Linked DNA regions of Homo sapiens: region 2 is linked to region 1. Evidence: fine-mapped QTL for protein levels in blood plasma. A gene starts in region 1. The other region holds a variant in brackets. All regions are shown on one strand. Distances are between the middles of the regions.

Region 1 (5,389 bases):
TACAACCATCTGATCTTTGACAAATCTGGCAAAAACAAGTAATGGGGAAAGGATTCCTTATTTAGTAAGTGGTGCTGGGAGAACTGGCTAGCCATATGCAGAAAATTGAAACTTAACCCCTTCCTCACATCTTACACAAAATTAACTCAAGATGAATTAAAGACTTAAATGAAAACCCAAAAGTAAAAAAAAAAACAAAAAACCCTAGAAGAAAATCCAGGCAATACCATTCATAACATAGGCATAGGCAAAGATTTCATGACAAAAATGTCAAAAGCAAAAATTGACAAATGGGATCTAATTAAACTAAAGAGCTTCTGCACTGCAAAAGGAGCTATCATTAGAGCAAACAGGTGACCTACAGAGTGGGAGAAAATTTTTGCAATCTATCTATCTGACAAAGGTCTAATATCCAGAATCTTCAAGGAACTTAAACAAATTTATAAGAAAAAAAATGAACAACCCCATTAAAAAGTGGGCAAAGCCCATTAACAAACACTTCTCAAAAGAAGACAAATATGTGGTCAAGAAACATAAAAAAAGCTCAACCTCACTGATCATTACAGGAATGCACATCAAAACCACAATGAGATATGATCTCACACCTGTCAGAATGGTGATTATTAAAAAGTCAAGAAACAACAGATGCTGGCGAGGCTATGGAGAAATAGGAGTGCTTTTCCACTGTTGGTGAGAATGTAAATTAGTTCCACCATTGTGGAAGACATTGTAGCAATTCCTTAAAGACCTAGAACCAGAAACAGCATTTGACACAGCAATCTCATTACTGGGTATATACACCCAAAAGAATATAAATCATTCTATTATAAAGATACATGCTTATGTATGTTAATTGCAGCACTATTCACAATAACAAAGATGTGGAATCAACCCAAATGCCCATCAATGATAGACTGGATAAAGAAAATGTGGTACATATACACCATGGAATACTACGCCACCATAAAAAGGAACAAGATCCTGTCCTTTGTAGGGACATTTAGCTGCCTTTAATTGAGACTTTGATTGTACCATTCAGATTCTGGCACTTTGGTCCAATTATAGGAGTATTCTGGATGCCAGCATCTTTGCTAGCTGTGCACCCACAAAGCCTTTGACTTAAAAGACATTTGTGAATCAAGCTCCCAGGACCCAACATTGTATTCAAATTCTACAAATGACTCAGCCCCATTATAACACCACAGAGTCACAAAAATACAGCCCACATCAACCCTAGTGGGTATCCATGTGGGAAGGATACCCTAGTCCGACACTGCCCTAGCTCAAGACCATGCCATTAAAGATGACATGCCCCCTGCCTCCCAACCAACTATGGGCAGTGCCAACTACACTAGCACATGGAATGTCTTGCCATTCATAGGAGACCAGAGGCTCTTGGTTTTCCAGTAGCTGGTTACACTGCTGACTTCTGTTTTAAAAAAGCAAGACCCACAACACTGGAGTAACTTTCCAGACTTTACAGACACCTATAAAACTCGAAGTTCTGCTCTCTGTGATTGTAATTCCACTCTATACCTGGCTTAGCCCTTATGAGACCAAGTCCAATACCTCCCTAATGCTTCTAAGATTCAGGTTCCTGCTAATCCCACCCACTTCTCCTGCCTAAAGGGTAACCTGACTGAAGTATTCCACCCTGTGTGCTCTCCTAGGAGTAAAAGGAGCATCTGCTGGTCTCCGACTGTCAAACCATTTATTCCCTTCCATCCTCCTCGCCTTCCCTTTCTCATTGTCAGTATCCCTACTCCCACCCCTATCTTTTCCGTCCTAACAGCATCTTCTCCTCTTGCCCTCTAAAAGACTACGTAAGTAAAATTCAAACCCACTGCCCCAGCTTCTCTGATATTTATACAGACATCCAAAATACAAACACATTTGACTGAAGTAGGCTCTTCTGCACTGACTATCCATAACTCATCACCCTGCTTCCACATATCCCACATCACACATTTACCCAACTGATAATTGCCCCAGAGATGAAAAATACTGAGAAATGAAAACCACTTCCAAACGGCCTTTTCTTCTGTATTGGGGTGCCCCCTCATGGCAAGTGGCAACTGCACTCGTATTTCCTCAATACATACCACAGATGGGCTACCCAATGAACAACTGCATATTCTCACCATATGCCCAACAAAAGCCACTGTCTTCCTCCAGTCCCATTCTTTAGTAATTTCCCTTTACCTAAATCAAGGTACAATTTTCCAGTCTAATGGTAATGCCACAAAACTATATTGTGTCCCAACCAACAAGGGTGTTTATCCCCTCTCCTTTGCCCTTCCATTACTCTGAAACTGGAAGCCACGAGATGCATTCTGGCCTCTCTTGGCATTCCTATTTATATAAATGTTAATTATTCTTTCCCTACCCAGCCAAATGTCATTGATGTGCCACATTTGTACCTATAATACTGGGACTCACCACTGCTCTGGGACTTGCTGCGATGGCCACAAGGACCATTGCTTTAGCCCAACAGTCAAAAATAATTGATGCTACCCTACAAATGTCCAAAACTCTAGTATATCATATTTCTAAGTTACAGCAAATATTAGTCCTGCTAAACCAGGGAGCTTTGGCAAAAATGTTTTTTGACAGTAAATTTGTCCTTGATTATATATTAACTAGTCAAAGAGGTGTTTGTAACATTATTAGAGCTTCTTGTTGTAGGTGGGTTAACACCACCAATCAAGAGGTCATTCTAACAGAAAGCCTGGATCAGAAAACCATCACCCTAAAAAAACATGCCTTACATATTTAACACACTCTGAAATCCAGTCAAAATATGACTAAAGGCCCTTGCCATGACTGATGTATTCTCCTGGCCAACGCCAAACAAATGGGAGCCTGGTTACGAGTCAGCCTTCAGGGACTTGTCACATTTCTACTTGGTTTCTTCCTTGTTATTGTCATAATAAAATGTTTTCTATGCTGTTTAGTGCAACTTAGGCCCTATTCTGTAGAAGTCTCCTCTACTATTCAGGCCACTCAAACACCCCAAATAATTGAGTTCAAAATCGACATCAAGATATAAAGGAATCAGTGACTAAATATATTTCATATATGGTATTTTTATTGATTATTGTGCTGTCTTGACCTAGTATGGAGGCCTTGGCTAGAGGCTGGTCAGTTTCCTCTCTTGAGCAGCTGATTAAATCCACACCCCAACCACTTCCCTTATCAGGTTCTCACACTCTGGGGCCACTATGTACCCACTCTAATCACCACAGGGCCAGACATCAGACAATTAAGGACAGCGCCCATGCCCCAAAGCCCGCCAAAATTATGCAAATTATTCAAAATTATTCAACCTAGCTAACCCCACCCTTTTTGCTGTACATAAGCTGCCCATTCCCCCTCCAGCCTGTGGTACCCAGTCCTCAGGTGCAACCCCCTGCGTGGTCCTCTGTGGCAGCCTTCTCTCATTCAGAGCTGTAAGTAACAAAGACTTCTGCCTTTCATCTAGCTGAGCATTGAAGTGTTTTATCCGACTGCCAAAAGAATCTTTAAATCTTGTAAAATACAGTCCTACCTACATCTTAATTACTATTCAATGAATGAAAGCTGCAAAGCTTAAAAAACCTTTATAGTTTTTCTAAACCTTTTATATTTATCAAGCAGATCTCTGTAAATCTGTAAATCTGAAAAGGATAATATAAATTACCTTTTTTTTTTTTGAGACAGAGTCTCACTTGGCAGCCTAGGCTGGAGTGCAGTGGCACCATCTCTGCTAACTGCAACCTCTGCCTCCCAGGTTCAAGTGATTCTCCTGCCTCAGCCTCCCGAGTAGCTGGGATTACAGGCACATGCCACCACACCTGGCTAATTACTGTATTTTTAGTAGAGGGGATTTCACCATGTTTGCAAGGCTGGTCTCGAACTACTGACCTCAGGTGATCTGCCCTCCTCAGCCTCCCAAAGTGCTGGGACTAGAGGCGTGAGCCACTGTGCCCAGCCAATATAAATTACCATTTAAAATTATTCCATGACTAATGTTCAATTTGACGTTAATTCCCCTAAACAAATAATGCAATTGATAGACTTGGTTAATTAAGTTCCTTTAAATATTATATATTATATCAATTACAAATTTAGTCTACCTGAATCTCTCAAGCATTTCAAATGCCTGACACATTAGTATCTTTTATACATCTTGCAAGTTTATAAAAGGAGGGAGGGGGCTCTAATAATTAAAGCAATTCCAGTAAAAGTAATAAACCAAATTTATGCAGTAGTAAGTTATGTTCTCTTAAACATTCAAACACTGTGTATAGACTGAAGAAAATGCTCTTGTACTTTAAAATTGAAATTATATGGTTCATATATCTGATTTTCTAATATATCAGGTTATATTAAATGCTTCAAGTAACTTAACAAACAATCTTTCATAGGTTATCTCAAGGATTAAATAATTAAATTTCTAAAGTTAATACAAATGTGTTAATATTGTGGATTTGACTAACTTCAACATTCTTATAGTTATTTCTCTCTTCTCCCAGTATTGTAAATCCACTTATGCAAATAAAGAGAATAGATAGATGTATGATCTGATTGGGCTGAGGATACTGTATCAGAGAATCAAGGCCAGGGTTGAAGTGTCAGTTAAAGAATTTGAGAGAGGGTCAGGGACCTAATTAGGTACCACACATGCCCAGGGTGCCTCTACACGACCCGAAAGTCAATCTGCTGGGCATCTCCTTGAGGTAACAGAGCTTTCCAAATTCACACTGTTTCATGCAGTCTAGTATATCATGTGTACCCTTACCTAGTTTTATTTATTTATTTATTTATTTATTTATTTATTTATTTATTTATTTATTTTTGAGACAATTTCTCTGTCACCAGGCTGGAGTGCAGTGGTGTGATCTCAGCTCACTGTAACCTCTGCCTCCTGGGTTCAAGCAATTCTCTTGCCTCAGTCTCCGGAGTACCTGGGACTACAGGCATGTGCCACCACGCCCGTCTAATTTTTGTATTTTTAGTAGAGACAGGGTTTCACCATGTTGGCCAGGATTGTCTCAATCTCTTGACCTCTGATGATCCGCCTACCTCGGCCTCCCAAAGTGCTGGGATTATAGGTGTGAGGCACCGTGCCCGGCCCCCTTACCCAATTTTTAAAGTTACCTCTTTTATAACTTTTTTGTTTTTTTGAGACAGAATCTCACTCTGTCACCCAGGCTGGAGTGTAGTGGCATGATCTCTGCTCACTGCAACCTCTGCCTCCCGGTTCAAGCAATTCTCGTGTCTCAGCCTCCCGAGTAGCTGGGATTACAAGTATGCGCTACCACACCCGGCCAATTTTTGTATTTTTAGTAGAGATGGGGTTTCGCCATGTTGGCCAGGCTGGTCCTGAACTCCTAACCTCAAGCGATCC
Region 2 (5,389 bases), 500 kb after region 1:
TGTATCACTTGGTAAAATCACTAAGTCATTGAATTGTACTCTTGAAATGAGTAAATTTTATTCTATGTAAACTGTACCTCAATAAATTGGTGTAAAAAATAAGATGAATGCAACAGAACATGTGAGAGATGATGAGGGTTTGGGTATTGGCGTATCTTTAGGAAAATAGAGGGAAGGGGTGAAAAATATACCCAAGGTAAGATTTGGCAACACTGCTATGGTAGGAATAGAGGATAATGTTGAGACTGGCAATTTGATGGACAGGATTTATGTAATAGTGATGACAGAGATAGGGTACAGAGGAGTATATCTAGGTAGGAAAGTGAGGAGAAAGAATTCAATTTTGAAAGACTGTGATTGAGTTATTCACAAGATGGCTTCAATATTCCCCTTGGCTTGACTAAACTACAGGTAGGTTTCTTCCTGACCATAGGCCCTGGAGCATCCTTTCCTTAGAGTGTTTGCTTTAGCAAACTTGCAATTGTAAATTCTTTCTCTGCCCATTTGAGAGGCAAATTTTCTGTAACCCAGGAATATTTTTCTTAAGATTCAGGAGCTATCTCTTTGACATGTTATCATTGAATAAGATAGAGCCATTGTCTTCCAGTCTCCTTGGGAGAGTAGCAGCCTAACTTTAATAAGAGCTAATTAGCAAACACAGATGGTGGCCAAATATCCTCCTCCAACATCCCCCAATACTTTTCCATTAGCTTGCTCCAGCATTCAAGAATCTGCCTGCCTTTAGCTCATTCTAGAATTCAAAAAATTATTCTGCCTTTTATTTTTGCAGAGTTGAGTTCAATTTTATCTCCTATTGCAATAGTCTTGAACAAAGCCTTCCTTGCTGCTTTTAGTAAGTGTCCAGGGCAATCTTGCCTTTACAGTTAACTGAGGAAGCACTACAGGAAGCACTCCAGTAAGCAGTTGAAAGGTTTGATCTAGTTGCTAAGGACAACTCAATGTCTTTTCACCCCCTTATATTTAACTTCTTTAAAATATTTAATTTTTGTACTCAAATATTTCTACAAGCTTGCTATGGAAAACAGCAGCGTTTTGTTCCTACCTGTTCACCATTTCCAGCTCCTTAAAGGCTTTCCACTCACTTGGCTGAATCTTTTAAATACATGCACTCCTATCTCTAAATATTGTTTATATTGCTACTTCTCGATCAGTTTTATGCACTATCTGTTGACATTATCCCTAGGAAGCTGAGGATTCAGTTCTTGGTCCTATAATCCCCATTCACTTCCCATCTCTCTAGAGAATCATATTGTAAATTGGATTTAATAAATTTTCAGTTTTTACACAATTTTTATGGTGAAAGTACTTTGTGCAGCTAAGTTGTTAGTACAGGATGAATACTTTTTCTTTCCTGAAGAATATTTTATTTTCTCTAGAATTAAAAATTGCCTCAAGTTTTAAAAATTCGTTCTCTATGTGCTTCTCTTTACGTACTTATGCAAACTTACCCCTCCTTCTCAACCAATCCTCTTTCCCACCCAGTAGCTATTTCATCAATTTTGATGTCTTAAAAAGTCTATCCCAGAGCTTTTGAGCAGTTCTGATCTGGACTCATTTCTTTCCAGATCTCTTGCACAGCTCATCTCCTAGGATCTCTGTTACCTCTATCTTGAGAATTCCTTTTGTTTTTTGCTTTTAGAGTCCATGCTTTAGGAAGGCTCTGTTTTTCCTCTTTCTTGGTTTATCGCTGTGTTTTTGGTGAAGTACTCTTTTTAGTACTTTTCAGAGAAAGGGCATATTAAAACAGTTAATTGGAAGGCCATTAGGCTGAGATGGTTCCCGTGCCTTGGGTTCCCACATAGGTAAACTGAAACCCAACTCAGAATGAATACAGATGACCTAGGAAAACTGAAACTAAAGCTTATTCAGATATTCATCGTGTAATTCTCATATCCTTCCCCTATTTTCCATTTCTGTTTTTTTTTCCATATTTTCTGGGAGAGTTTTTCCAATTTTGTCTTCCAATCATTGTATTGAGTTATTTATTTGTGCTATCATATGTTAATTTATAAAAGCTCTTTTATCAGCGCTTTGAATACTCAGTTCTATAATTTTATGTTTTTATTACAGTATCTTCTCATTTCTCTGAGGGTATTAGTGTTTTTTTTTTCTTTTTGAAGTTTTATTCTTCCTGTATATGTTTGTTTCCTCTGACTTCTTTTTTTTTTGGCATTTGCTTATTAACTATGTTCTTTGATCTGGTGATTCTTGTTTGTTCACATTAACAGTAGGGCATTAAAATATTGACTGGCAACTTTGTAAGTATAGAGAGATACTGTCTCTGTAGGTGGTCTGGCTGAGTGATTCCTTAGTTGACCCTCTATCAGCATCTTTAAGTCTTTCCTCTTGGGCTGCTCATGTTCTCAACTGAAGACTCTTCTAGTGTCCTGCCAGTGCTGTGGTAGCTGAGTCAGGGAGAAGGTGGGCATTTCTACAGTAATTACGGAAACTTTCTCCCTCTCTGCTTTTAAGTGCTCTCAAGTTTCCTTATTGTCTACCAGCCCTGAGACCCACTGTTTTACCTTCACTAGAGGAAACTTCTCCAGCCTTCTTTCAAAGTGCAGTTGGGATAGCTGGGACATAGGAATCTGTTTCCTAAACAGACTTTCAACCATTTATTTTCCAGGGGAATATGATGCCTTGAATTCTGAGCTTTTTGGGAGTTTGTGATTAAAATTGGACTTGGATTTCTAGGATGTGCTAAATTAGGTATAC[C/T]TCCTGTCCAGCTGCTAAACCCTTTCCTTGTTTTTAATGCAGCTTCAAGAGAAAACACTGCTCAATTCATGTGTTTAATTCATCATCTTTAACCGGAAGCATCACCAATTCAATCTGAAGTGTCAATGAGAGCAGTAAGGTATTCAGAACAGAAATGGTAGTCATGTTATAGGCTACAGCAGTCAGATCATATCTGGAGCAACACTTTCCATTCTGAGCAACGTAATCTGTGTTGACAAACTACATAATGACTAGAGAAGAGAGATGGCAATAGTTTAAGGTGCAAAACCAAGTTAAATGAGAAGCAACTAAAGGAACTGTTGATATTTCTCTAGACCAAAAAGGCCTCTACGATGCTGTGATCAAAATTTGAATGCAGTTAAGATGAATACCCATAGGCCAATGATATCAACTCTCTGTTCAAAGGTTTTGGAGGGGTGAGAATACTATAGCTCCCTTTAAATATATATGTGTGTGCGTATATGTGTATATATATATATATATATTTATTTGTTTTGAGATGGAATCTCGCTGTCGCCCAGGTTGAAGTGCAGTGGCGTGATCTCAGTTCACTGCAACTTCCACCTCCTGGGTTCAAGCAATTCTCCTGCCTCAGACTCCTGAGTAGCTGGGATTACAGGCATGTGCCACCACATCCGGCTAATTTTTGTATTTTTCGTAGAGACAGGGTTTCACCATGTTGGCCAGGCTGGTCTCGAACTCCTAACCTCAAGTGATCCACTTGCCTCAGCCTCCCAAAGTGCTAGGATTACAGGTGTGAGCCACCGCGGCCGGCCACTCCCTTTAAATTCTTAATTGACTGTTGTATCACAAAGAATTAGACATTAAGTTTCTTTTCAGAGAACATAAGAGTGATAACTGAACCAAGTGAAAGCAAAATACATTTTAGCTCAGTGTAAGGAAAACCTGCAATGGGAGTCTCAGACATGAATGTGAACAGGGACCAAATAGATAATATAAATACATGAACTGGCTGGATAAAGATATTAGCAAACTGAAAAGTGCATGCCATGTGTAGAGTGATTGAGTAGCAGTATTGAAAAGTTCAATATTTTCAAAAGAGCTCATATTTTGAGATTTGTTTACAATACTCCAATTTTTGGACATTAATTTATTTTTGAAAACTTCATCTCTTATACCAAACATATGGGTAGGATGAATTTATCTTGTGGGACTCCTGCTTGTAACCTCTCTAAGACGTAAGTCTAACATCCCAATGTTATCACTGGAATTGTCCCAGTCAGACTTGGCTGCTCATGTATCAGGAATAACAGTGAGAATAAAATTGAACTAAATAATGTCTAATAATTGCCTTTTCACTTCAGAAAGTCTGCACTTGAAATGTAATTTTTTAAAAAATGTAGTTACCCATGGAGTAACTGTTCCCATTGCATGCTATCCAGTCTTTTTACTTTTCCTTCTTGTGCTTTTCACTGTTTTTGTTCACTTAACATCTTTGCGTAAAGCATGTAATTTGTGCTATGCATATGTGGCAACTTATATGCGGCTCTTTTAAAAGAATCATCTAACAATGAGGCAAAATTGCTGGCCGAACTGATTTTAAGTGTTACTTGTGGTTTTCTATAATCTACATAGTCACTATATCCCCAAAGAAGTTGTGTGATGTAATGGAAAAAATAATACATGCATGGTGGATTCACAGTAATCATAGTTTTAGAAGCCAGAATATACATTTGAGGCCATAACCCATTCCTCTAGTTTACATTTGAAAGACTTGAGACCTAAGAGAGTTAAATGACTTGCTAAGTTGTGCCCAGTACATAATACCTGGTGTTGGGTAGAGTTAGGGAAGAGAAGACATGATCTTGTTCTGAGGAACTTAACAATCTCAAATGACAGGACACCACACACACATCTATTTGAGCAATTTAAGGTATAGAAAATCCAAAGTAATGTACTGAGAGCTTAGGAGTTCGCTTCCAAAAAAAAGATACTATGGAACTTGACCTCAGGCACAGCCCATGTTGTGTGTCCTTCCCCACACTTTCAGATTCTCCATCTCCTTCCTGCCATTATTTCTCTGCTGGAAAATTTCACTATTAAATAAATAACTAATAGTAAATTAGGAGTGAGAAATTTATGAAAGAGTAATAATGAAGAGTAAATGCTAGCTACCAAGTAAGTAATTAGCTTTCAACTAATTAAGCATTGTAATGACTGTCCCCTTGAATAAGGAGCCACTGAGCATTTTAAAATGAGTTTTAGTGCATTTCACTCTACTTTCCATAAGGTAGTGTTAATTCTTTCCAAGCAAACCTGATTTTTTTCGTGAAGAAAATATAGTAAAATATATAAAACATTTATCTTTTATTTCTATAAATACACTATTCAGGAAACAATTACTAAAAGAATGGAGTTACAAATTCATTTTCTTCATAAAAAGTTAAAGAGACATAAATATCAAAGGACTAAGTCTTATTATTTTAAAAGCAACTGTCTCATGACTGTAAAAGTTTAAACATGTTCAAAAGTAAGTGACATCTCATGAAAAAAAGATGCAAGCTTTGAATTTTAGTGTTACATTTCTAAATGATCTTCCAAAAAGATATATGGAAGGTATTAGTCATTGCAGCAAACTGAAAGGTATATTATGATGGAATAAGGACCACAT

Evidence for each region. A credible set is the group of variants that fine-mapping cannot tell apart. PIP is the chance, under the fine-mapping model, that this variant and not a neighbour inherited with it causes the effect. Protein levels are from the aptamer-based SomaScan assay of Sun 2018.
Region 2: its variant is the best candidate, but not a certain one, in a credible set for the plasma level of the CA1 protein (Sun 2018, PIP 0.75).

What each region holds. Positions count from the first base shown.
Region 1 is chr8:85,376,106-85,381,494 of GRCh38, reverse strand. It overlaps CA1 (carbonic anhydrase 1), which reads left to right and starts at 3,382. Exons shown (of 8, transcript NM_001128831.4): 1 at 3,382-3,449. RefSeq lists a promoter at 2,563-3,354.
Region 2 is chr8:84,875,349-84,880,737 of GRCh38, reverse strand. All of the region lies in intron 7 of RALYL (RALY RNA binding protein like), which reads right to left. Among named protein-coding and RNA genes, the nearest start is that of LRRCC1, 230 kb to the left of the region's middle. The variant C/T (reference allele first, on the strand shown) is at 2,737.